Homo sapiens: one gene and its partners. The protein of the gene in region 2 purifies or fractionates together with the protein of the main gene of each other region. This does not show direct contact. Each region holds a gene or a part of one and is shown on either strand. Other genes may lie near its edges. The genes, in order: ZNF70, ILDR2, PCDHAC2, GRAMD1B, PVALB, CLEC2D and SH3TC1.

Region 1 (4,042 bases), on a different chromosome or scaffold from region 2:
CACTGCAGCCTTGACCTCCCCGGCTCAACTGATCCTCCAACCTCAGCCTCTCAAGTAGCTGGGACTACAGGGGCATATCAACACATCCAGCTAATTTTTTAATTTTTCTGTAGAGATGAGATAATATTATGTTGCCCAGGCTGGTCTTGAACTCCTGGGCTCAAGCAGTCCTCCCACCTCTGCCTCCCAAAGTGCTGGATTACAGGCATGAGCCACCATGCCCAGCAGAAATGATTTTTTTTTTTTTTTGAGGTGGAGTCTCACTCTTGTTGCCCAGCCAGGAGTGCAATGGCCCAATCTCGGCTCACTGCAACCTCTGCCTCCTGGGTTCAAGCAATTCTCCTGCCTCACCCTCCTGAATAGCTGGGATTACAGGCACCCGCCACCAGGCCCGGATAATTTTTGTATTTTTAGTAGAGATGGGGTTTCACTATGTTGGCCAGGCTGGTCTCGAACTCCTGACCTCAGGTGATCCGCCCACCTTGGCATCCCAAAGTGCTGGGATTACAGGTGTGAGCCACCACGCCCAGCCCAGAAATGATTTTTTTAAATGATTTTTCAGCCAATAGACCGACTGGATATAAAAAAAAAAGAGCACTGAACTAAAGTATTTTCTTTTTCCAGAATGGAGTGCAGTAGTGTGATTACAGCTCACTGGAACCTCTGGCTCCTGGGTTCAAGTGATTCTCCTATCTCAGCCTCTTAAGTAGCTAGGACACCATCCTGGCTAACACGGTGAAACCCTGTCTCTATTAAAAATACAAAAAAGGCCGGACGCGGTGGCTCACGCCTCTAATCCCAGCACTTTGGGAGGCCGAGGTGGGTGGATCATGAGGTCAGGAGTTCAAGACCAGCCTGGCCAAGATGGTGAAACCCCGTCTCTACTAAAATTACAAAAATTACAGCGCGTCTGTAATCCCAGCTACTCCGGGAGGCTGAGGCAGGAGAATCGCTTGAACCTGGGGGGCGGAGGTTGCAGTGAGCCGAGATCGCGCCACTGCACTCTAGCCTGGGTAACAGAGCGAGACTCCATCTCAAAAAAAAAAAAAAAAAAAAAAAAAAAAAAAAAGCCGGCCGTGGTGGCAGGTGCCTGTAGTCCCAGCTACTTGGGAGGCTGAGGCAGGAGAATGGCGTGAACCCAGGAGGCGGAGCTTGCAGTGAGCCGAGATCGCGCCACTGCACTCCAGGCTGGGCGACAGGACGAGACTCCGTCTCAAAAAAAAAAAAAAAAAAAAAAAAAAAGTAGCTGGGAATACAGGCTCTACAGGCACGTGCCACACCTGGCTAATTTTTGTATTTTTTGTAGAGATGGGTTTTCGCCATGTTGTGCAGACTGGTCTCGAATTTCTGAGCTCATGCGATCCACCCATTTTGGCCTCCGAAAGTGCTGGTATTATAGGCGTGAGCCCCCTCGCCCAGCCCTAAAGTATTTTCAAAAATTCTTTGATCACTTCAACTCCTCTCACCCTCCCCCTCCTCTTCAGCAACCCATAATCTCCAACTCTTCCAGCTCTCTCACTCAATTTGTGCTTTTCGACCTCATGAAATCCAAGCCATTTTTACTGTAGTTCTCCTTTTCTAGCTCCACCCCTTCTCCATCCAGCTTAGACTCTCCATACTATGCGCATCACTTCAACTCTCACGCTCTAGCACCATGCTCCTCACCTCCTCGTCCGGCTGCAACTAGCCGCTAAGTCCCAGTCTTCTCGGCCAGTTCCTCCTAAGTTGTTAAATGTTGCCAAGAAAAATCATACAACTATGTATGGCACCACGACAAATTTCGAGTTTCCGATTTCAGCTGGGACCTCAGCTCTGGCATTCTATGACCTCCTTATTGCCAATCCCTCTCTTCTCGGTCTTCACCTTCCCACCCCATCTGGCACTGCTCTCCAATACCTCCTTCTCAAAACCCTTCATTTCAGAGGTTGCAAATTGGCAGCCTGAAGATCCTGCTATGTTATGTTTGGCTCTCGAAGAGTTTGGCTTTTCCTGTTCATTTTCCTTAGTTACCAATATTTAAAACTCAGTAGGTTTCTGGCTTTCTCTTGAAAAACGAAGATGTGACAATATCCCTTCACCCGCCCACATTGCCTACCTAGGTGCATGAAAGCTTTGAGCTACCCCCCAACCCCATCCCCACCCTCGCTTTCTTCCCAATTTTCATGGCTTCCAAGTTCTCTTTCTTGATATCTTTAGATTGCAACTCTTCCTCCGCCCACCCATTAAGTCCTGGTGTTCTCAAACTTCCCTCCGTAGAGGTTTTCCATTCCCACTATATAGCCCCTACACCCTGAAGTCTCCACTCAGAAAAAAGTTGGCAACCCTTTATCTGTCTCCCACAACATGATAAGTGTTTTTGGACCGAAAATGCAAAGATCTGGAACTCCATGCTTCCCACCTCTGTCGGGGCCTTCTCCGGGTCCTCCTGCATCTGTCATCCCATCCTCCAGAGAGTCCCTAGGGCCTGGGCACCCTGCAAACTCTTAGTGCAGTCAAGGTTTCCTGGCTGGGGGCCCAAGAGTTGCCACGGACCCGCACACGCTGCCCAGGCGGCGACGTGGCGCCCCTACAGGCTTCCCCGCGATTGGGGACACGCACACCCAGGGCCACCGGAGGGACAGGTGGTCAGGCGGACTCAGGTCACACCGGCGGACGCGGGGCCACTCACCTGGGCCGGGGCGGGGCAGCTCACCTGGGCCGGGGCGGGGCCGCAGGCGGGCGGGGCGGGGCCGCACCTGAGCTGCTCCAACCCGCGGCCGACGCGGCCGACGCTGCCTGGCTCCACAGCAGCTGCTGACGCGGAGCCCGCGGCCGCCCGAGCACCCAGAGCCCCGCCCCCGGCCCGCGGGCACTTCCGGGACCACTCTAGGCCGCGCGGAGGTCCCGGCGTCTCGGTGGTCCCACCGCGCCGGTTGTCGCCGCGCGAAGCCGCCCGGGCCCCGGGACACAAGGACCCGAATCAGGAGAGTCTCTCCAGTCGGCATGGTGGCTCTGGCCGTCCCCGAAGCGCGTGCTGGACGTGGGGGAAACAGAGATGGGCAGGCGTTGGCAGGAGAGCAGAGGAGGAAACAGGTCCGGACGGGCGGGCCGACCTCGAGCCGCCGGCACTCGGGGCATCTGCGCTGGTGCTGGGTGCAAGCCAGAAGCCACTGAGGCAGCTGGGGTCTTCAGGGAAAGGAGAGTGGAGCCCCAGAGCTGTCGACCCTGTCACTGTCCACAGGCACCGGGGTCCTGTTAGGATCCCCCTCCCCCAACCTGCTTCAAGGGTAGCCCTGTTCCTGTCTGCCCTCCCCGCCCCCACAGAAATAGAGATGAGAAGGGGCAGGCGAAGAACTAGGAGTGTCTGCGAGACCATCCCAGGACCCTGAGCCCCCCAACTCTCTGCATCCCAGGGCTGACTTCGACATGAAGCGCCTCCTCTCAGGCGCACCGGGAGGGAAGAGGAATGTGTTCTTGAAATGGCCGCCCCCTTGGCCGGGCGCGGTGGCTCACGCCTTTAATCCCAGCATTTTGGGAGGCGGAGGCGGGTGGATCACGAGGTCAGGAGTTCGAGACTCAGCCAGACCAACATGGTGAAACCCTGTTTCTACTAAAAATTATCCGGGAGTGGTGACAAGCGCCTGTAATCCCAGCTACTGAGACAGGAGAATCGTTTGACCCTGAGAGGCGGAGGTTGCAGTGAGCCAAGATAGTGCCATTGCACTCCAGCCTGGGCGACAGAGCGAGACTCCATCTCAAAAAACAAAAAAAAAAAAAAGAAAAGGAATCTCCGCCCCCTCCTTGCTGCTGATGGCAAGACTGGCCCCTCCACCCAGTGTTCTGCCCATGACACCCCCCCCTCAGGTGCAGCTGCCCAGCTTGTGGGAGAGCTTCCCTCCGCAGACCTTGGCCCAATCACAGGACATCAGGAGAACACACTGTCCCTGGGAAAAAGGATTCTGCCCCAGCCGCCCACCTGCCTTCAGCACCCTCAGCCTTGGCGCTCGAGTGCCTCCAATGCTACCCACACACACCTGCCTTCCTGCCCCATTAATGCTCTGTC
Region 2 (3,500 bases):
GAGTAGGCAGCTCTTGGCATTTTGAAAATAATGAAGTCTATATAAGACCACTTACAAAAGAGACAATGAACTGGATAGGGACCAAAGGATTTCCTTCACATATACGGGCACAATGCAGTTTACACTCAATAAAACATCAAAAGAGGACAGACATGAGTTGTCCTTTGCAAACAGCAGTGGCTCTTAGCCTTCTCTGGGATGTGGGTTCTTGGAAATCGGATGCAAGTTACAAACCCTCGCCCCAAGCAGGGCTGGGGAGGAATGCACATAGAAGGATGCATCGAAGATTCTGCACACAGACCTCAGAAGCCCACTAAAGGCCGGTGGTGGTGATGGCTCCCGAGATCCCTGATGCTAAAGGCTTCTGAGTTGGTTAAATACCTAATGCTCCCTGTAAAACCATATACACGCCTTCAACTTTCTGCCTGTTTTTCAACTCTCCCAGCCCTTGCTTCCTTCCTTCATCTGGCCTTGGACAGAGTGAGGCTGAAAAAGCCCCCGGCCTAGCATCCGCGGACGAACTCGCCCAGGCAGGCCCCTGCGGCCTCTCCGGCAAGGACCCTCCCGCCTCGCCACCTCCCCGGCCCCCAGACAGCGACACTGCTCGCCCTGCCTGGAGGCTCCCGCTCAGTCCCCTCGGAGGAGGGGAGGCAGACGCAGTCTCACGGTTTTCTTGGCGGGCTCCTTTTTCCTCTTCTTCTCCGAGTTGCTGTGGTAGGGCAGGTCGCGGCCGCGGTAGGACGGGCCGCGGGTCAGCTCCAGCTCGCTGTAGGGCGGCAGCGCGTCGTCGGACGCGTCCTCCTGGTCGTCCTGCGACGAGCCGGCCTTGTAGGTGCCGGGCGGCGACCAAGCGTAGTAGGAGGCGCTGCGCGGGCCGAGCTGCGCGCTCCGCTTGGATGGCGTCTCCAGGCTGCCACCGCGGCTGGCGCCCTCGGGCCGCGCCTGGCGCTCCCGCGCGCTGCCCAGGTACGAGTGGTCGTATTTGGGTGCGGTGCCTGGCGTGCGGCTCACCAGCCGCGGCAGGTGCGCGTCCTCGGCGGGTCTGCGGCGCGCGGGGCTGAAGGCCCAGCCGCGGTCAGCATCGGTCAGGGGCTCGCGGCTGCGGCTGCGCTGACCGTAGTACTCCTCCAAGGAGTCGTCCTGGTAGAAGCCGCTGTGCGCCCGCGACTCCGAGCGCTCGAAGCGGCTCCCGCCCCGCGCCTCGTGACTGTTGCCGTCTGCCCGGCGGGGCCGCTGGCCGTAGGAGTCAGCGAAGGCCGCCAGCTCGTCCATGGAAACGGCCGGCACCCCCGTGGCGAAGTTCTTCCGCGACAGCATCTCCGACTTGGAGCGCGGCTGGCTGCGGGCAGAGAAGGAGGGGGTCAGACGGCCGGTCCCTCCCTGGAGCTCCAGGTAGGGCTCCCAAGAGCACCCATCGTGTCCTGGGGCCACGCTCAGGAGACCTCGGCCTGAGCCTCAGCTCCGCTCCAGGCTGGATGAAGCATTCCAGGCTCCTCTCACACCCCAGAACGTCAAGTAGGGGCAACCGAGTCTATTCCACTCGTGTGCCACGCATCAAAATGGGGTTGTGTGGATAGAACATATTCTGTATCCTATGGAATACTGACCCACCGTGGGGCTGCCTTCTGGTCATTATGTTGTGACCTCGGGTTGACAGCCACACGTCTCCACCCTCAAAGCCAGCGCAGGTGTCAGTACACACAGTTATGGTCCCAGGAGTCCCTGTAATGTGTGGTGACACACAGAGAGGCCTTTTCTTCCCTCAGAGCCAAGGGCCAAGTTACCTACTGGGGCAGGAGGGGAGAAGGACACTTGCAATTTGTAAGGGAAAGGCAATGTTCACTGTCTTTTAAGGTAAAGGACAGATGAGTGGTGAAGGTGCTATTTAGGGGGAATAGCAAATCTTAGCCTCCCACAATTGTTGTGGGAGGCCACATCACCTGGGTAAGTGCCTTAGCACCTAGAAGTTTCCATTTTCCCAGCTTAAAATAGGGGCATTAATAGTAGCTGCCCTTTAGAGTTATGAGAATTAAATGTAAGAGAAGTGTTTGGCATTTTACCTTTCATATACTAAATGATCAAAAATGAGGGAGATGGCCAGGCATGATGGCTCATGCCTGTAATCCCAGCACTTTGGGAGGCCAAGGTGGGTGGATCGCTTGAGCTCAGGAGTTCAAGACCAGTCTGTCAACGTGGCAAAACCCTGTCTCTACCGAAAAAAACAAAAAAAAGATGGAGATGATGGGTGGGATTTTGTAGAGGTTATAGGATAAAATATATGAGAAGGGCAGAGATATATTAATGTTCATTAAAGGGTCTAGGGGACCCATTTCAAAGGTCTTGAATAATTACTTCTACACATGTTGTCACAAGTGTTCCCTGTCTTGACAAATGTGAGATGTTCAATATCCTGTAGAAAGAGAGATGTGTCAGGATAACCTGGAATGGGAGACAGAGATGCTACTGGATGGCATCTTCCTTGCCTCCGATCTACCCTGCCTTCCAGCTCCTGCCCCCTCACACCGACCAGACCTGCCCCTCACAGCCATCACCTGTGCCTGAAGCTCTCTCGATCCTCTTTGTTATACTCCATGGCTGAGGGCCCGCGGCTTGCCCCACTGCTGCCTCCCATGACACCTGACCAATAGTCAGGATTGCTCTCCAAGTCCCCAGACACAGGGAACTGCTTGCTTCTCATCTGATGGAAAGACTGGCGGAAATTGCTGTCCTCCTCATGTAGGGAGCTGAGTTCTGAGATGGTGTTGTTATCTGCAGGGACAAAATCAGGCATGATAGAGCTTTTTGTGTTACTCTGTTTTAGACAGGAAGAGAATCCTGTTAAGGGCTGAGACCCTAGGCTCCAGGAAACTCCTGCCTCATTGCTGTCCAGGGTGGGTTGTAAGCCTGAACTAGTGGTGTTTGTATTCTTAGCTCAGCAGGCATTGGCTCCAGTTTGAAGCCTACTTGCTTACAGAGAGGGAGGTTCCTACATGCTCTGTTCTTGGAATAGGAGAACAAGTTTGTTATTGTTGCACCTAAGGCAGGCTTTCCAGAACTCAGGATCTCTGTTGCTGGCCTCCTCCTAGTACATCATCATCCTTGTTCAAATGTTTTCTTCTTCCTTTATAATTCTGTGATGAGCTGTGTTGATCCTAGACATGTTAAGCCAAAAACAGAAAAAGAGAGACAGAAGCCATAGATCACAGCATCTTCCTTACTGCTGGCCCAGTCCTAAGATGGACCTTCAGAGCCAGTACTGCCATATGCTGTAGAGGCACTGCATTCTGGCCTCCTTTGGCTGTGCCCCTCCCCACAGAGCAGGAAGTCCACAGAATAGTTGAATAGTCAAGGGGAAACCTGTACCTAGTATCCATATACCCCCTGACTTAGCCCATGCTCATTTAGGAACCTGGAAGATCCTGCTCAAGTAGCACCAAGCCTACTTCCAGCACTTGGGCAGACCTCTTCCCCTCTCCCAAAAAAGTTTTCCAGGGGTATGT
Region 3 (3,500 bases), on a different chromosome or scaffold from region 2:
ATGACAGACACCCAGAGAATGAGCAGTTCTCAAAAAGGTGGCTTAGAATTCCAGCTTATATAGCATCTTCAACAAAGAACAATAAATTTTTAAAGAAGTGTAAGACAAAGGAAAAGACCTTTAAGGACTTTGAGTCTCTAATGGGTAGCTACTTGGGGGAAGGCAAATGAATGGCAGATAAAGGCTAATTTGTAAAGCAGTACCATTTCCAGGCCAATAAGAGTCCAAAGTTATCTTCAGTGGTTAACCTTTGTTCTCCCTGGTGGTGGGAGGCAGAGGAGGGAGGTGGAAGTAGGATAACTTTTGTCTTTGTAAATTTATGGTTTTTTAGGCAAATACAGGGAGGGCAGAAGACCTCTCCTATATCTGCTTCTTTTATTATTATCATGATTATTATTTTTTAAATTTGAGATAGAGCCTTGCTCTGTTGCCCAAGCTGGAGTGCAGTGGCGAGATATCAGCTCACTGCAGTCTCTGCCTCCTAGGTCCAAGTAATTCTCGTGCCTCAGCCTCCTGAGTAGCTGGGACTACAGGCACATGCCACCATGCCTGGCTAATTTTTTTTTTTTTTTTTTTTTTTGTATTTTAGTAGAGATGGTGTTCCATCATGTTGCCCAGGCTGGTCTCGAACTCCTGAGCTCAGGCAATCTGTCCACTTTAGCCTCCCAAAATGCTAAGATTACAGGCATGAGCCCACTGCACCCAGCCTGTATCTGCTTCTTTTAACTTGCCTTCAGCTCAACAATCCTTCTTATTTTGGGACAGCATATTCTGGCCCCCACCATCAAAACATTCTCCTGACCTTTCTCTCTGACTGTTCTTTGACAGTTTCCTTTGTCAGTCTCCTCATCTGTGTGTTGAAGCTTCCTTGGGTTTGGCCCTAGACTCTCTTCTCTATTTTCTCTTCACTCTCTCCTTTTGGGATCTCAGCCATATCCATAGATATAAATACCATATGAATAAGCTGATGAGATGCAGACTTATATTTTAAGCCCACATCTCTCTGTGCTCCAATCTCATGTATAACTGCCTATCTGGTATCCCCAGTTGGAAATCTCATGGGCATCCCAAACTGAAGAAATCTGAAATCAAACTCTTGATTCCTCGAATCTATTCCTTTCTAAATCTTTCCAGTTTCAGTAAATTACACCCCATTTACCCCATTTCTCAAGCCAGAAAGTTCAAAGCTAATTATTCATTTTTCTCTATTCTATTCTTCATTCTCCATTTATAATACATCATCAAGACCTGTCATTTCTGCCTCCTAAATATATCTTGACTCTGTCCTCTTCTCCCAATTTTCACTGCCACCACTCTTTCAGGACACCATCATCTCTTATATGAATTGCAGCAATAGTCTCCTTATTCAGTCTGCTTCCACTTTTGCTTCTCTCCAACCCTCCACACAGTAGCCAGAGTCATCTTTATTTCTTAATGTCTCTCTTTAAAAACTGATGTATAACAGCCAGGCGCGGTGGCTCACACATGTAATCCCAGCACTTTGGGAGGCCGAGACAGGCAGATCTCGAGGTCAGGAGATTGAGACCATCCTGGCTAACACAGTGAAACCGCGTCTCTACTAAAAAATAGAAAAAACTTAGCCGGGCGTGGTGGTGGGCGCCTATAGTCCCAGCTACTCAGGAGGCTGAGGCAGGAGAATGGCATGAACCCGGGAAGTGGAGCTTGCAGTGAGCTGAGATCGTGCCACTGCAGTCCAGCCTGGGCAACAGAGCAAGACTCCATCTAAAAATAAAAAATTTAAAAAAAAATGAGGCATAACATACATATAGCAAACTCTTTTAAAAATATAAATCAGATTATATCACTCCTCTGCTTAAGCTTTCTACTGCCTTGAGAAAAAAAAAAAAAACTCCTTACCATGATACATAAGTCCCTTCAATAATCTGATTTTTATTTCTTCTCCACTCTCATCTACAAATCTCCCTCTTACTATTATACTCCAACCATACAGGCCTTCTTTCAGATCCTCAAACACTCTTTGGAATTGTTTTTTTATTGTTGTTTGTTAGAGATAGGTTCTCACTCTGTCAACCAGGCTGAAGTGCAGTGGTGCAATCATTGCTTGATGTAACCTCAAACTCCTGGACTCAATCGACCCTCCTGTCTCAGCCTCCCAAGTGGCTGGGACTACAGGCCACCATACCTGGCTCCTTGGAGTTGTTTTTGCCTCAGGATCTTTACACATCTGGTTTGCTTTTGTCTTGAATGATTTCTCATCCATTCTTTTTTTTTTTTTTTTTTTTTTTTTTTTTTGAGACGGAGTTTCGCTCTGTCGCCCAGGCTGGAGTGCAGTGGCGCGATCTCGACTCACTGCAAGCTCCGCCTCCCGGGTTCACGCCATTCTCCTGCCTCAGCCTCCTGTGTAGCTGGGACTACAGGCACGCGCCACCATGCCCGGCTAATTTTTGTATTTTTAGTAGAGACGGGGTTTCACCGTGTTAGCCAGGATGGTCTCGATCTCCTGACCTCATGATCCGCCCGTCTCGGCCTCCCAAAGTGCTGGGATTACAGGCGTGAGCCTCTCATCCATTCTTAGCATGACTCCTCACTCTTCAAGTCTGTATTAAATGTAACCTCCTTGGAAAGGCATTCTATGACATTCCTAGCCAAGCAGCACCCCCTTGGCCTATTATTCTCTACCACTGTAAGATTCACAAAGGCAAAAAATGTATCTGTTTATTCACCAATGTATCACCAGTGCCTAGCACAATTCCTGGCCCATAACAGGTGTTTAGTAAATACTTGCTGGATGAATGAATGAAAGGACTGATGTGAGAAGTGAAAGTGGTACCCACTCTTTAGCAGACCAAACAACTCTCCAATGAGGCACTTTTGGGGTCCCTAAAGACAATGATGTAATGCATGTAAAGTACTAAGCTTGATCCTTAGCACAATGCAAGAATTCAGTAAATGGTATCACATATGGGCAATTATATATAATGCAGCTCTCAGGGCTTAGGAGACCAAGATAATGATACTGCAAATTTACAGCAGGCAGTGACGAGAGAGGGTAAGAAATTTTCTTCTCTCTTCCAAACCCTTTTCCTTACACCCTGGCAGAGCTGACACAATAGCACTTTAGGGATGAGAAACAAATTTTTTCTCTGAGACTAATGACTTTGATCTATCTAAGTTAATCAAATCTGCAATTGAGCTCAGCCAGAATCTGCCTGTTTACCTTTAAAATACAGGTCCTGTCTCTAAGAGACTGAGACAAAAGAGAGAAATGTATTTAAAAACCTCTGATTCGGCACCTAAAACTGGGTTTCAGCACCACTCCACAGTCCTTTAGTTGCCCTCAGAGCCCAAAATGGAAATTTTTCTTCAACCATAACCAGGACTCTGCATGAGGCCTAAGCACTGTCATCTGGAGATGCAGAACACAGAGATATGTTCATCTTGCACAGTTAAAGGACATTAATGGCTGTGTGTATTGGCAGAGGGAGCCCCTCACAGCAGGACTGCCAAGAGTTAATCCA
Region 4 (3,500 bases), on a different chromosome or scaffold from region 2:
AACGTGTGGGCTCCATGAGTGCACAGTTCCAGTGCCTGGCACAGAGCAGACACCCAGAACATCTAATGAAGGAATGAACTCCTAAAATGCCCTCTAGCATTTCTCTGTTAGCATTTAACCATCTGTGCAGGAATTTCAAATGTTCTGTCTCTCTCACCCACTTGAAACTGAAACCCTGAAGGGTATGGATGCTGCATGAAGCATTTTCTTCTGAAGGCCTAGCATACAGTAAATGCTGAACAAAGCAGAGAAAAAGAAGCGAAGAGGTAAGCAACAGGCAGAGCAACCAATCCAGACAGAGAAGACTAGAGGATAAGGCAAAAACCAGGGCAAACAGTAAGGGTGCTCAGATGCTTCAAGAGACGAGGGCTGGGGCACCAGGCTGGAAAGGGAAGGTGGTGAGGGCAGGATAGGAAAACCTAGAATCCCTTACACACAGCTGATAACCAGCAGCAGCTTGGACACGCTCTGCAGGTGGAAACCGTTGGGGGTGTCCTCCGGGATATGCCGCGTCTGTGTGGAACCTGTGGGGAGAATTAAAGAGACCATCACCATGGTGACCCACAAGTCCAACAACTGCTGGTGGGGACACTGGTCAAACAGCAAACATCAGAGACTGATGGAAAAATGTCCATGACACTGTGACAGCAACGATATGCGGAGACTGCCAGCTCTCCAAGAGGAGAAGGTAAAATCCTCAAGGGCAAGGTCATGGGTTGGGTCAGGTCATCATTGAACAAATGAGAAAATCAACAGGCCCATGTAGCTAGGATACACAGGCCCAGGACAAAGGGATCTTCAGCTATGGGAGAGGATGTGGCATTGGGCTAGGACTAAAGACGGCTGGCTTCTGGGTCTGGATCTATTCCTAGTAAGCTACATGATGGAGGACAAGTCATGTAAGCTCTCTGAGAGTCAGTTTACTCAAATGCAATGTCAGTCAGAAATCTTAAATGCAAAACACGTAACATGGAAGTGCTAGGGGTAAAGCTAGGCGGCATGCAGAAGGCTGGCACTCTTCCCCCACTCTCCCCTCTTCTTCTGCCTCCCCTGTCCATATCCAACTCAATTAGTTGGTCTCTAAGGCCCCTTAGAGTCCCAGGTTTCCAGGATTCAGCAAAGACAAGGATGTGAATGGCTGGGTGGGAAGAGGAAGAAATATTAAGGGAGTCCACGGCCTGAGAGGGCAAGCCTGGGTTGGCCCATGCGGGTTGAAGTGAACGGGGACTGTCTTGGTCTCCCTGATCTTTGTGTAATGAGGTAATCTCTGTGGTCTGAGCTGTGGGATCTCCTTAGTGTATTTCCCAAGAACTTGGAAGCTTCATACTTGAGCCTATGCAGGTAGCCATGGAACTAGGGCAACACGAAAGCATAAACACTAAGGCAGCTTTTGTTAATTAGAGCACACATATGGGTTCAGCTGGGGCTGAGGAACTTAAAGAGCAAAGAGAAACAGAGCATTGGGAGCCTCAGATTTAGTGACTTACGTTCAAATTATATACAAATTATAGCCAAGGTGCAAAATGAGTGTGCATGTGTGTGCCTTGGTGTGGGCATGCAGCTCCAGCCCAAAGCTTAGTCCACCCGACCTGTCCCCACCTGGCACACACCTGCCACATGTTTGATCCTGTGGCCCACATCCTCATCTGTGGGCGTGGTGACCGGGCTCATCACCTCTTCCAGGTGAGGGACTCGCAGGTGGGCATGGGGACGCTTCCTCCTCCGCACCGTTGTAGTCTTGCTGGCCTTCTCTTTGGGAGATTGTCTGTGCATCTCAGCCAAATAAGTGCTCTCCGTTTTGGCCAGCTCGCTCTCTATCAGAGACAAAAGGACCACAGGAGAGGCCACCTTCAGCCCTCCAATGCAACTCTCTGCAGAACCATTTTCCTATTCTGTATTCTGGGAAGTTGGTTGGGTGGGTTGAGGATCCTCAGGGATGCCCATGAGCCTCAGGAGGTACTTGTGGGACCCAGCCCCAGTCAAACCCTTCCTCTGGGGTTGTTCAACATTGCAAGGAACCATATGTTCCCAATATCTGCACCCTCATGTATACAATTTGGGGCATACACGTCTTAAATAGATGCATTCACAGGCATTTTACAAATACTTCTCGTCACAGAGCCACCTATATCACTAGGTCTGTGGTTCCTTTTGGGGTGAGGGGTGTTTTATAGATCCCTCAATGATCTCTTAAACATCCTAGACACAGTCTAGAAAAATGCACTTGTCCACATACATGCCAAATTTGGTGTCCACTTCTGAAGCAGGTGTGGGTACCTCATGAAACTACTTCACCTTTCAGTCTCTGCCTCTATTCTCAATACCATTCCCCTGAATGGTGGGCGGCCGCAGTGCAGTTTACCATCTCTGCAGCCCAGCTAGCAGCAAGGATTGCAGTGCTCACCTAAATGGCGGAAGTAGTCCTCCAGCCCACTCCAGAAGTTCTTCTCGATGAACGTTTTCACTAACCCCCAGGGCTGTTTTCGATAGCGCAGCTCTGTGGAGACCCTGAGGAGCAAGCCAGACACAAGATCAGTCATTTCCTGGGTGGGCCTGCCTCTGCTGGGAAAAGGGAAATTCGGAGTTAAGGCCAGATCCGCTTCACATTTGTACTAAACTTTACAAGTTAAAAGGTCCTTCCACATCCATCTCACCCTCTGAAGTCAGTGGAGCTGGTGGATTTATCCCCATTTTATAGATAAGAAAACTGAGCCGTAGGATATTTAAGCAGAGCAAAGGCTAACAACTAGGGTTCTGACTCCAGAGTTCTCTTATGATGGCACACTGCCTCCTCTCAGGGGTCTCACATAGGGCCCAGCAGCCTGCCTGCCAGGCAAGGGGAAGCTCTGCCTGAGGTTCAAGTCTTTTGAGAAACTGACACTGAAAGAAAGTAAGACGGCTCATCCTTTCATCAGGGTCATTCTCTCCTTCTCCAGAGACTTTTAAGTCTAAGTCAAGTTCTGGGTTTTTATCACTTTAACCTTTAAAAGTATGTCATCCTGGGCAACAGAGTGAGACCCCCATCTCTACAAAAACAAAAATAATTAGCCAGGGTCATGTCTGTAGTCCCAGCTAATGGGAGGTTGAGGTGGAGGTTGAGGCTGCAGTGAGCCATGATCACACCACTGCACTCCAGCCTGGGGAAGAGAGTGAGATCCTGTCTCAGAAAAAAAAAAAGAATATCATCTGCTGCCAGCCCTGGCTCCTGCCTCTCCACTGCACCCCAGACCTCACCAGCTCTTGCTCTTTTCCAAGCATTCTTGCTCCCAGTCACTGGTCACACTTCTGTCCATACCCCCTGCAGTATCAGCTCTTTTCTCTCCTATGCAGCAGCCCTGCTCTTTGCCTCCCCCTTAGGTTCATCTGCATCTGTCAATAGATTCTCCCAGCTAATCCATCCCGCCCCATCCCGCCCTGTGACTAAGGCTGCCAGCCCAGCCTCATCCCCCTCCTCAGGGATGCCACCTCCACCCATGTCCAGATGGGAGAATGCCTGTACT
Region 5 (3,417 bases), on a different chromosome or scaffold from region 2:
CACCCATTCATCCATCGTCCATTCACCCACCCATCCATCCATTTACCCATCTGCCCACCCATCTACTCACCCATCCATCTATCCATCTATCCACCCACCCATCCACCCACCCATTCATCCACCCACCCATCCATCCATCCATCCATCCATCCATCCATCCATCCATCCATCCACCTACCCATCCACGGACCTGCATTCAAATCCCAACACTAGCAAATCCTGTATTTGTGGGCTTAGACACATCACATCCCCTCTCTGAGACTCAGTTTTTCAGAGAATGGGAGTTTCATCACCTACCTTATGGGGTGGTTTTAGGGAGTAAGTGGGTAACCTCTGTAGAGTTCCATGCTTAGTACTTAGAACAGAAAAGAGACTGTTCCCTTCCATTCCCTCCTATCACAACTTTTCTAACTGTTGAAATCCAGCCCCCACCCCCTGCCCAGATGCATCTGGAAAGCCAATGCCTGACCAGGCCTGGGTCTTCCTGAGCAAGCAGAGTCTGACTGGTACAACCTTTATTGCTTCTCCAGCATTTTCCAGAAGAATGGTGTCATTAGAGGGCCACAGGGGATGGGGGAGTAAAAAATAACATAAACGAACTGAACAGAAATGCAGGAGGGTGGCGAGAGGGGCCGAGATTGGGTGTTCAGGGCAGAGAGGTGGAAGACCAGGGGCAGTCAGTGCTTCTTAGCTTTCAGCCACCAGAGTGGAGAATTCTGCAGAACAAAATGACAAGGAAAGTGAGTCAGAGGCGGGGATGCAAGAGAGACTGTCCACACCTGACTGCGGGGCCCTGGGTGGTGCTCTCTCTGGGTTCTTGCTTCTGCTGCAGCAGCCCCAGAGCGTAAGTGTGAAAATGAATGAATGAATAAATGAATGAATGAGCAGATGAGTGAAGTGAGGTGGGAAATGATGGGCCTACCACATCTTTTGGTTCATCATGCCATGCCACACCCAAAATCATTAATAATAACTACACTAATAACAATAGCAATAATAATAATAATAGTTTTCTGAATGCTTATCATATGCCAGGCACTATTCGAAACACTTTATATGCAATATCTTATTTGACTCTGACAATAGTCCTGTCTGGTGCATTTTGGCATTGTTCCTGTTCTACAGATGAAGAAACTGAGGCTCAGGGTCCTGATTTCTGGACTTCTCTGCTGTTTTTCTCCCCAGGAGATGAGAGAGGACAAGGAGTTTGCTGCCACGTGCCACTACGTGTCTCTGAGATGCCATGTCTCAGCCTGCTGGGGAGTGTAGGGTCTCAGGCAAGTGCCCATCGCCCTAGAAAATGCAGTGTTGTCTTGGCTGGGCACAGTGGCTCACGCGTGTAATCCCAGCACTTTGGGAGGCTGAGGCAGGTGAATCACTTGAGGTCAGGAGTTTGAGACCAGCCTGGCCAACATGGTAAAACCCTGTATCTACTGAAAATGCAAAAATTAGCTGGGTGTGGTGGCGGACGCCTGTAATCCCAGCTACTCCAAAGTCTGAGGCAGGAGAATTGCTTGATCCCAGAAGGCAGAGGTTGCAGTGAGCCAAGATCGTGCCACCGCACTCCAGCTTGGGCAATAGAGTCAGACTCTGTCTCAAAACAAACAAAAAAAAGAAAAGAAAAAAGAAAATGGAGTGTTGTGATGTGGGGAGAGCACAGGCTGGGGATTGAAAGTTAGGGCTTCCAGGCTTAGTCTGGCCCTATTTGCTGGAAAATGTATCTCTCTGGGTTTTGGTTCCCTCATCTGTCAGTGGAGTGAAGAGAGGGGCCAGTAATAATTGCTTGGGTGAGACAAATAAAAAACTGGTCGTGAAATGGCTTCAAAAAGGCCACAAAAAGTATCTGAGACTCATTTGAGGTGAGCTGCGTCCTCCCTGGACTTTGTGTGGAATACAAATGTAAAACCCCACCTATCCAGTTTCTTAGTTTTCATCATTGTACTGTGGTTATGTAAAATATTAACATCGGGGGAGCTGGGTGAAGGGTGTACAGGACTCTCTGTACTATCATTTCAATTCTTCTGTATATCTACAATTATTTCAAAATAAAAAAGTGAAAACACACACACACAAAAGCCAAACCAACACATGCTGTATTGTAGAAATAACCTGGCACTGGGCTGGGCACGGTGGCTCGCTCCTGTAATCCCAGCACTTTGGGAGGCTGAGGTGGGCGGATCACGAGGTCAAGAGATCGAGACTATCCTGGCCAACACGGTGAAACCCTGTCTCTACTAAAAATACAAAAATTAGCTGGACGTGGTGGCGCACACCTGTAGTCCCAGCTACTTGGGAAGCAGAGGCAGGAGGATTGCTTGAACACAGGAGGCAGAGGTTGCAGTGAGCCGAGATCGTGCCACTGCACTCCAGCCTGGTAACAGAGTGAGACTCCATCTCACACAAAAAAAAAAAAAAAAAAAAAAAGAAAGAAACAACCTGGCACTGGCCCTGGCTAGATGAAGGGACACGTACCTGGGTGCCTCACCTTCCTGAGGTTTGACTTAGGAAATAGACATCATCCTTTCCTGTCCCCAGGCTGTCCTAGGATAGGAAAAGTGGGTGACCTGGATATGGGGGATGCAGGGTGGGAGAGAGTGAGGGTCCACCAGCTGGTTTTGAAATCTCCAGGCTCTCTGGCTGAGTGGTAACAGCAGTGCCAAGGATGGAGTCTCAAATAAATACCAAAACAACAAATACTCGTACAGAATCCCTCCCATAGGGCAGGCGTCAAAGTGCTTGCTTTCTCAGCCAGGAGCCTGTGATCTTCCAGGACCTCGGTGGGGCAGGTGGTTATTTTGAGATGTCTTTTATTAGCAGTACTTTTATTAATTATAGCTAGTAACTAACATTTATCGAATGCCAATGTGGGAAGCATTTTGCATATATTATCTCATTGAATCCTCATGACTACTCCATGGGAGAGACACCTTTGTCTGCATTTTACAGATGGGGAAACTGAGGCTCAAAAATTAAGTAGCTTGACCATGACATGATTCAAGCTAGAAATGCTCTTAGGCTTCCTTCTTCATCCCTGTAGTTTCCGACCTACTTTGACCTTGGTATAGAGTGACACATGTCCCAGCTCAAATATCACCATCCCATCGCATTAGTCCTTTTTTATTTACTTCATAGTCCTTGGCACTCTCTGAAATGATCTTATTTATGCACTTATTTTTGTCAGTCTCCCCCTACTAGAATGCAAACTCTAGAGGGCAGGGGAGCCTCTCTCTTGTTCACTGTTCTCCTGGCAGCCACAGTGTTCCTGGCACACAGTAGGTGCTCATAAATAAGCTCTGGGTGGATGGATGGAGGGATGGATGGACAGATGGAGGGAGGGATAGAGGGATGGATGGATGGGGGGTAGATGGATGGATGGATGGATGAGGAATGGGTGGATGGAGGGATGAGGAATGGATG
Region 6 (3,171 bases), on a different chromosome or scaffold from region 2:
GCCTTAGAACCAGGAAATGTCTTCCTGACCAATACATGAAGTATTATTAAAATATGCCTAAATAAAACAAAGCATAATTCTCAGTGTAAGGCCAAAGGTCTGGGAAACTGGGGAACTCCAATGTCTGAGAGTAGAAAGAAATGGATGCCCTAGCTTTAGAAGAGAATAAATTTACCCTACCTGACTTTTTGCTCTGTTTGGGTAAGACCTGCACGGATTGGATGATGCCTGCCAACATTGGTGAAGGTAGATCATCTTTACACAGCTTAGTGATTCCAACATCAATCTCTTTCAGAAAAGCCCTCATAGACACATCCAGAGATAATGCTTTCCCTGCTGAGTATACCTTATCTCAGTCAAGTTGACATATAAAATTAGCCATCACACTTCACTTGACAGTTTTAAAGTGTTTTCAAAATGACTATTACTTAAAACAGAAAGCCAATCATCTTTTACATAATTGAGACCCACCCTGAAGAATAAGAGATAGCTGTAATATATTTACAGTTCACTGCCTTTCAAAGTGTTTATTCAGAATTATACTAGAAGTAATTTCATGAAAATAATATTGTGCAACCTTTTCATTCTATTTCAATGAAAAGCAGGCATGAACATTACTCAAGCTTGAAATTTTACTGAAAAGTAAACATTTCAATTAAGCTTAAGGAAAAAAGAAATTTCCTGAGATTTCCAGTGTATACAGAAGTGTCTTTCCATTAAGAATAATTAAAAGTTAAAAAATATGCTGATAACTTGCCACAATTGACAGAATGCAGATTAATAGGATAAATGGCAAACAAATCTATAAAAATGCATGCAGAGAATCAGAGTGATCACCCCACCAAGCAATGGGGTATAGATGGTGATATACCCTTGTCCTTAGGGGAGAGGGAGATGGGGAAGTGTGGGTGATTTTGGGGGAAGAGTAAATAATTTGGGGAGAACTTAATGGGGTGAAGATCACATAAATGGCCTGGGACAAAGTCTACTGGGCTTGCAGAGAAGACAATGGTTTGTGAGAAAAATCTATCCAGGTGGGTTAAGAGACTTCATTCTTTTTCCTACAATATGACTTCAGTTAATGAAAACCCATGGAAGGCACCAGAATTAACTGTTTTCTTATTTGGTGAGTCTGAACTTAAAGCAGATAAAGGAACTTCAGAGAACTTCCTCCTGTGCTCTGGGAAAACAGAGGATTAAGAAACAGAGGTTGAGGAGGAGGTCAGAGAGACCTCGAGTCTTCTTTAGTTCCACCTGTCAAATCACTATATGTTAGGGTATCCGTTTCTGAGCCCCAACAATAGTTTGGAAATATATTCTCCCAATCTGTAAGTTGTCTCTTTACTCCATTAATTATTTCCTTTGCTGTGCAGAAACATTTTTTATTTTATGCAATTTCATTTGTTTATTTTCACTGTGGTTGCATCTACTTTTGAGGTCAAATCCAAAAATTATTGCCCAGACCAACGTTGTGAAGCTTTCTCCCTATATTTTCTTTTAGTAGTTTTACAGTTTAAGTCTTTAATCGATTTTCAGTTGGTTTTTATATATGGTAGGAGGTAAGGGTCCAATTTTATTCTTCTGCATGTGGATATACAATTTTCCCACCACCATTCATTGAAGACTATTTTTTCCCCATTGTGTATTCAACATTTAGGGACTGGGGCTGGGGAATAGAGAGATGTTCCCCACATGTCACAGGGTAGTAGGTTTCAGTTAAGAGGAATAAGCTTTTGAGATCTATTGCACAGCATAGTGACTATAGTTAATAATAGTGTATTGGATCTTTCAAAATTGTCAAGAGAATAAATTTCAAATGTTCTCACCACAGAAAATGATAAGTATGTGAGATGATGAAATGTTAGTTTGATTTAATCATTCCATAGTGTACACATATATCAGAACATCACATTGTATTCCATAATTATACAGTTGTCAGCTAAAAATTTAAAAAATAAAAATATCCTTTAAAAATGCAAATAGCAACTGCAGATAGAAATTTATCATGTATCTCCCAATGTGCTTTTTTATTGTATATATTTGATGTGTATAATGTGATGTTTTTATGTACATACACTTAATCTAATTAACATAAGCTTCATCTCACATACTTACATTTCTTTTTGTCTGTGTGGTAAGAATATCTAAAATCTGTCATCAAGTTTTCAGTACACAGTGCAATACTATTATAGTCCTCATACTGTATGTTAGATATCTAGACATACTCACCCTTTGTAACTGCAACTCTGTATCTTTTGACCTGTGTCTCTGTATTTTCCTCATCTCTGGTAACCACCATTCTACTCTATTTCTATGTATTTGGGTTTTTTTTTTAAGTTTCACTATAAGTGAGATCATGCAACATTTTTTTTCTGTGTCTGGCTTATTTCACTTAGTATATATAATAAACCCTATAGGTTTATTTACATTGTTTCAAATAACAGTGCTGAGACCAGCTCAGTCGGGTAGATCCTAACCCAGCAGCGCCAGAGGAACTAAAGACACACACACAGAAATATAGAGGTGTGAAGTGGGAAATCAGGGGTCTCACAGCCTTCAGAGCTGAGAGCCCAGAACAGAGATTTACCCATGTATTTATTAACAGCAAGCCAGTCATTAGCATTGTTTCTATAGATATTAAATTAACTAAAAGTATCCCTTATGGGAAATGAAGGGATGGGCCGAATTAAAGGAATAGATTGGGCTAGTTAACTGCAGCAGGAACATGTCCTTAAGGCACAGATCGCTCATGCTATTGTTTGTAGCTTAAGAACGCCTTTAAGTGGTTTTCCACCCTGGGCAGGCCAGGTGTTCCTTGCCCTCATTCCCATAAACCCACAACCTTCCAGCGTGGGTGTTATGGCCATCACTAACATGTCACAGTGCTGCAGAGATTTTGTTTATGGCCAGTTTTGGGGTGAGTTTATGGCCAGATTTTGGGGGGCTTGTTCCCAACATAACAGGATTTCTTTTTACAAGGCTGAATAATATTCTATTTTTTATATATATATATATATGTATGTATGTATATAATGTGTGTGTTTTATATATATGACAATTTCTTTATCCATTCATCTGTTAATGGTCACTTCAGTTAGTTCCGTATCTTGGCTATTATGAATAAAGATGTGTTATAATAAACAGGAAAGCAGATATCTTTATGAGGTGGTG
Region 7 (3,500 bases), on a different chromosome or scaffold from region 2:
GCCCTGAGGGCTCCTGTTTGGGGCCCAGCCCTCTGCCCACTGCACTTTGCCTGGGTGAGAGTGACTTTTCTCCTTGTCACAAGAGAAAGAACCCAGACTGTGGTGTGGCCTGGTCACCTGGCTGCCAGGGAGTGTCATGGTGGGACCCCAGGGCTGCCGTCTCCTAAGGACAGAGATAGTCCCTCTGACCTCAGTGCCCCTCTGTGTGCAAAAGCTTTCTCTGGGGGCTGCAGTGCAACGCATAGATGAAGTTGGCATGTCATCCACAACATAAAGAAACATGGCAGAGGCCGTGCTATCTGCTGGGTGTAGATAAACACAAATGTGTGGCTACACACCCACTTTTTTTTTTTTTTTTTTTGAGACAGAGTCCTGTGCTGTTGCCCAGGCTGGAGTGCAGTGGCATGATCTCGGCTCACTGCAACCTCTGCCTCCCGGGTTCAAGCGATTCTCGTGTCTCAGCCTCCCAAGTAGCTGGAACTACAGGCACGCGCCACCACACCCTGGATTAGTTTTGCATTTTTTTATACAGACAGAGTTTCGCCATGTTGGCCAGGCTGTTCTCGAACTCCTGAGCTCAGGTGATCCGCCAGCCTCAGCCTCCCAAAGTGCTGGGATTACAGCTGTGAGCCACTGTGCCCAGCATCTACACACCTACTTGTATACCTATGTGCACATGTACAAACACAGACATAAACACACAAATACGCATGTAAATACACACTGTGTGCATGCACACATGCACTCACAAGTATACACACACACACACCCACCCATGCAGACATGTGTGCACATGTGCCTGCAGAGGTGTATACACACATACACACATGTGCATGCACCTTCCTCACAAGGTGTACACGCACACGTACATACATATCCATGCACCCCCTCACACACATATGCACACACATATATAAACAGATACATTTCCACACACACTTTTTTCCTGCTTGCTCGATGACATGCATTACAAGACCTTTTCTCCCACCAGTATTAGAGTTAACATTTGTAGATCCCACAAATCAACTTCCCTTCCTGAATGGACAAACTTAGACTTGACCTCAGCATATCAAGGCTCAGACCCCCTGGATGGTATCTCCTGTCCTTTTTAGGAAGCAGGTTTGGGACCCTCCACACCGTGGGGTGTTGTGGGCAGGGGCATTGCAGGGTGCAGGTGTCATAAGTGGGGGTGTTGCAGGATGCAGGTGTTGTGAGATGGAGGCATTGCAGGGTGCTCCCCAGAACTGCACACCTGTTATCGCAGTTCACAGCGCTTGACGCTGTCCACATCTCCACATCTTTTTACAGCTATTTCTCACTTGACCTCCACGGAAACCCAGTAAGCAGTTAGTGTCAGCCACTTTACGGGGGTGAAACTGAGACCCGGTAGCTGCCTGCCCTGGGATGAAGAGGGTGGGGGTGCACTGGAGCAGTGTTGATCCCTGGGCTGTCGGACTCAGAGCTGCTGCCTGTTCAATGCGCCCTGCTCCCTGATGGAGCTGATGGAAGCCGAGAGCGTGCTCCCCACTGATGATGGGAGGATGTCCCCAGAAGACGGGAGAGTGGAATCCCCACAGGGGTTGGGTGGGGTGGAGGCCTGGAGATGCTAGAACATGAGAATTCTCTGGCCCATTGGCTGGTGCCTCTCCCTCAGGTGTCAGCAGTGCTCCTATGCTGGTTGCACCTGACCCTGCAACACCTCAGCCTGCAACACCTGCACCCTGCAACACTCCAGCCCGCAACACCAGCACCCTGCAACATCTCAGCCCTCAATACCTGCACCCAGCAATGCTCTCACCCTGCAACATCGACACTAGCTCAACCTGGCAGGGGACCAGAGGTACTGGCTGGGGGTGTTGATTGCTTCTCTTTTCTCCCTTGCCAGACTCAGTAGAGGAAGCTGAGACCGAGCAGCCGCAGGAAAAAGGTGGGTTTTGCCAGTGGCTCAGGCTTCCTCTGGTTATGAGCTGGGCCTTGGGGTAACGCTGGGGGAGGTGACAAAGCTGAGCACGGTGGGCATTGGGTGCGGCTGTCACCCCTCTGTGGTGTGGGCTGGGGGCTTGGGGGAGGTTGCCTGAGGTGGGCCTGAACCTCCCGTCCACTGTGGCACTGGAGGCCGTGGGGTCCCGCACTTCTTCCAATGAACATGCTGGCCCCCGCCTGGTCCCCGCCCAAGATGGAGCATCCTTTCCACTGCTTGGGTCCACTTGTAGCTGTGGGTTCCTTTCTCATGACCTGGAGAAGCTGCAGCTTGCCCTCTGCTCTGCCTCAGAGATGGGAGGCCACACTGCCCTCAGTGGGTGGCAGAATTCAGAGCCTTAGGTTGCAGGGGCCTCAACTGAGGTCCCTCAAGGGTCTGCTCCTTCCTGAGGGGCTGATTGAGGGAGACCCTTCCATCTCCCCTCTACAGCTCTGTCTCTTCCCCTCACACAGGGTCCGCATGGGGAGAGCCTGGGGATGTGGACACCCCAAGAGCCCTCGGAAGTTCCCTGGGAATGGGATCCATTCCAGTACATTTGGGATGCAGGCAGGAGGTCCCAGAGGAGGCCTGGAAGCCAGTGGGGAAGGGAAGGCTGTTGTAGGTTTTCCTGGGGGAGGGGGTGGATCCACCCTCTGCCGAAGTCCCTGGAGCAAATGCGAGTGACTCCAGCTGCCCCCAAGGCCAGGGTAATAGCTGGGAGGGGCTGTTTGCCTCTGCCGGGCAGGGAGATTTCTTAGCTAATCTAGTGTAGTCAAGTCACATTTGCCTCTAAATCATATGTAATTTTTTTTTAATTCCAAGGCTTTACAGATGAATAAGGAGACAGTTTGTAGTGAAAATATTTTTTACATGTGAGCTTGAAACAGAGAGTCTATTTAAATCTAGATTCTTTCCTTCCCAGTAATGTCTCCTTTCGTCCCAGGTTTTCCAACAGGAAATGCGCTTGTTTGCTCACCTCTGGGAGGGGGCTTTGGCTGGGAATCCACCAAAGCCAGCAGGCGCCAGCAGGCTGCGTGGGCAGCCTGGCCTTTGTTAACCCTTTAGGAACTGCGGGCTTCAGGTTTTCAGACCATCCAAGGTGAAGGTGGTCACAGGAGCCTGGAAGCTTTCCCATCCTTCCTGCAGGGATGGTCCATTTCCCTGCATGGAGCTGGGTACATGGCTACAACATCCCTGTCCTCTGCTGTGGGTAGCTTTACCAATTTTGCATAGCAGCTTTTGAGCTGATCAGTAGCTCTGACTGGCTGTTGAGGATTTCATGGATTCCTGTACCCCATCGAGGGGCCCAGTATGCTGACAAAAATTACATTTGTAGTCGTAGTGCTGCGTACACTTGGGTGCAGTTAGAAGGCTTTGATTCTTTCTAAAGGGAAAGGCATCTCTGAGGGATCACTGAGCTGACACATAGTCTCCTAAAACCATGCTGTCAGGTGGGCAACAAAGGAGGACAGGAGGGTGATTTCATAGGAGAGTTGGGCCATGGGCCTGTGTTTTCCCTGTCCCCACAGTGCCGGAGTTC

Evidence for each region.
Region 1: the proteins of ILDR2 (region 2) and ZNF70 purify together in Homo sapiens (affinity purification with western blotting; one study listed by BioGRID). This does not show direct contact.
Region 3: the proteins of ILDR2 (region 2) and PCDHAC2 purify together in Homo sapiens (co-immunoprecipitation; one large-scale study listed by IntAct). This does not show direct contact.
Region 4: the proteins of ILDR2 (region 2) and GRAMD1B purify together in Homo sapiens (co-immunoprecipitation; one large-scale study listed by IntAct). This does not show direct contact.
Region 5: the proteins of ILDR2 (region 2) and PVALB purify together in Homo sapiens (affinity purification with mass spectrometry, with the first as the bait; one study listed by BioGRID). This does not show direct contact.
Region 6: the proteins of ILDR2 (region 2) and CLEC2D purify together in Homo sapiens (co-immunoprecipitation; one large-scale study listed by IntAct). This does not show direct contact.
Region 7: the proteins of ILDR2 (region 2) and SH3TC1 purify together in Homo sapiens (affinity purification with mass spectrometry, with the first as the bait; one study listed by BioGRID). This does not show direct contact.

What each region holds. Positions count from the first base shown.
Region 1 is NC_000022.11:23,748,313-23,752,354, forward strand, and holds the start of ZNF70 (zinc finger protein 70), read right to left. Parts: upstream 2,801-4,042; 5' UTR 2,399-2,800; intron 1-2,398.
Region 2 is NC_000001.11:166,920,041-166,923,540, forward strand, and holds part of ILDR2 (immunoglobulin-like domain-containing receptor 2 isoform 1 precursor), read right to left. Parts: intron 3,153-3,500; coding exon of another isoform or gene 3,151-3,152; exon of another isoform or gene 3,061-3,150; intron 2,770-3,060; coding exon 2,553-2,769; intron 2,411-2,552; coding exon of another isoform or gene 2,332-2,410; exon of another isoform or gene 2,191-2,331; intron 1,340-2,190; coding exon 667-1,339; coding exon of another isoform or gene 628-666; exon of another isoform or gene 1-627. UniProt on the Homo sapiens protein: May be involved in ER stress pathways with effects on lipid homeostasis and insulin secretion. With ILDR1 and LSR, involved in the maintain of the epithelial barrier function through the recruitment of MARVELD2/tricellulin to tricellular tight junctions.
Region 3 is NC_000005.10:141,004,476-141,007,975, reverse strand, and holds part of PCDHAC2 (protocadherin alpha-C2 isoform 1 precursor), read right to left. Parts: intron 1-3,500. UniProt on the Homo sapiens protein: Potential calcium-dependent cell-adhesion protein. May be involved in the establishment and maintenance of specific neuronal connections in the brain.
Region 4 is NC_000011.10:123,611,769-123,615,268, reverse strand, and holds part of GRAMD1B (protein Aster-B), read right to left. Parts: intron 2,509-3,500; coding exon 2,405-2,508; intron 1,815-2,404; coding exon 1,611-1,814; intron 525-1,610; coding exon 434-524; intron 1-433. UniProt on the Homo sapiens protein: Cholesterol transporter that mediates non-vesicular transport of cholesterol from the plasma membrane (PM) to the endoplasmic reticulum (ER).
Region 5 is NC_000022.11:36,800,203-36,803,619, forward strand, and holds the end of PVALB (parvalbumin alpha), read right to left. Parts: intron 717-3,417; coding exon 688-716; 3' UTR 501-687; downstream 1-500. UniProt on the Homo sapiens protein: In muscle, parvalbumin is thought to be involved in relaxation after contraction. It binds two calcium ions.
Region 6 is NC_000012.12:9,696,883-9,700,053, reverse strand, and holds the end of CLEC2D (C-type lectin domain family 2 member D), read right to left. Parts: 3' UTR 501-3,171; downstream 1-500. UniProt on the Homo sapiens protein: Receptor for KLRB1 that protects target cells against natural killer cell-mediated lysis. Inhibits osteoclast formation. Inhibits bone resorption. Modulates the release of interferon-gamma. Binds high molecular weight sulfated glycosaminoglycans.
Region 7 is NC_000004.12:8,223,290-8,226,789, forward strand, and holds part of SH3TC1 (SH3 domain and tetratricopeptide repeat-containing protein 1), read left to right. Parts: intron 1-1,885; coding exon 1,886-1,927; intron 1,928-3,500.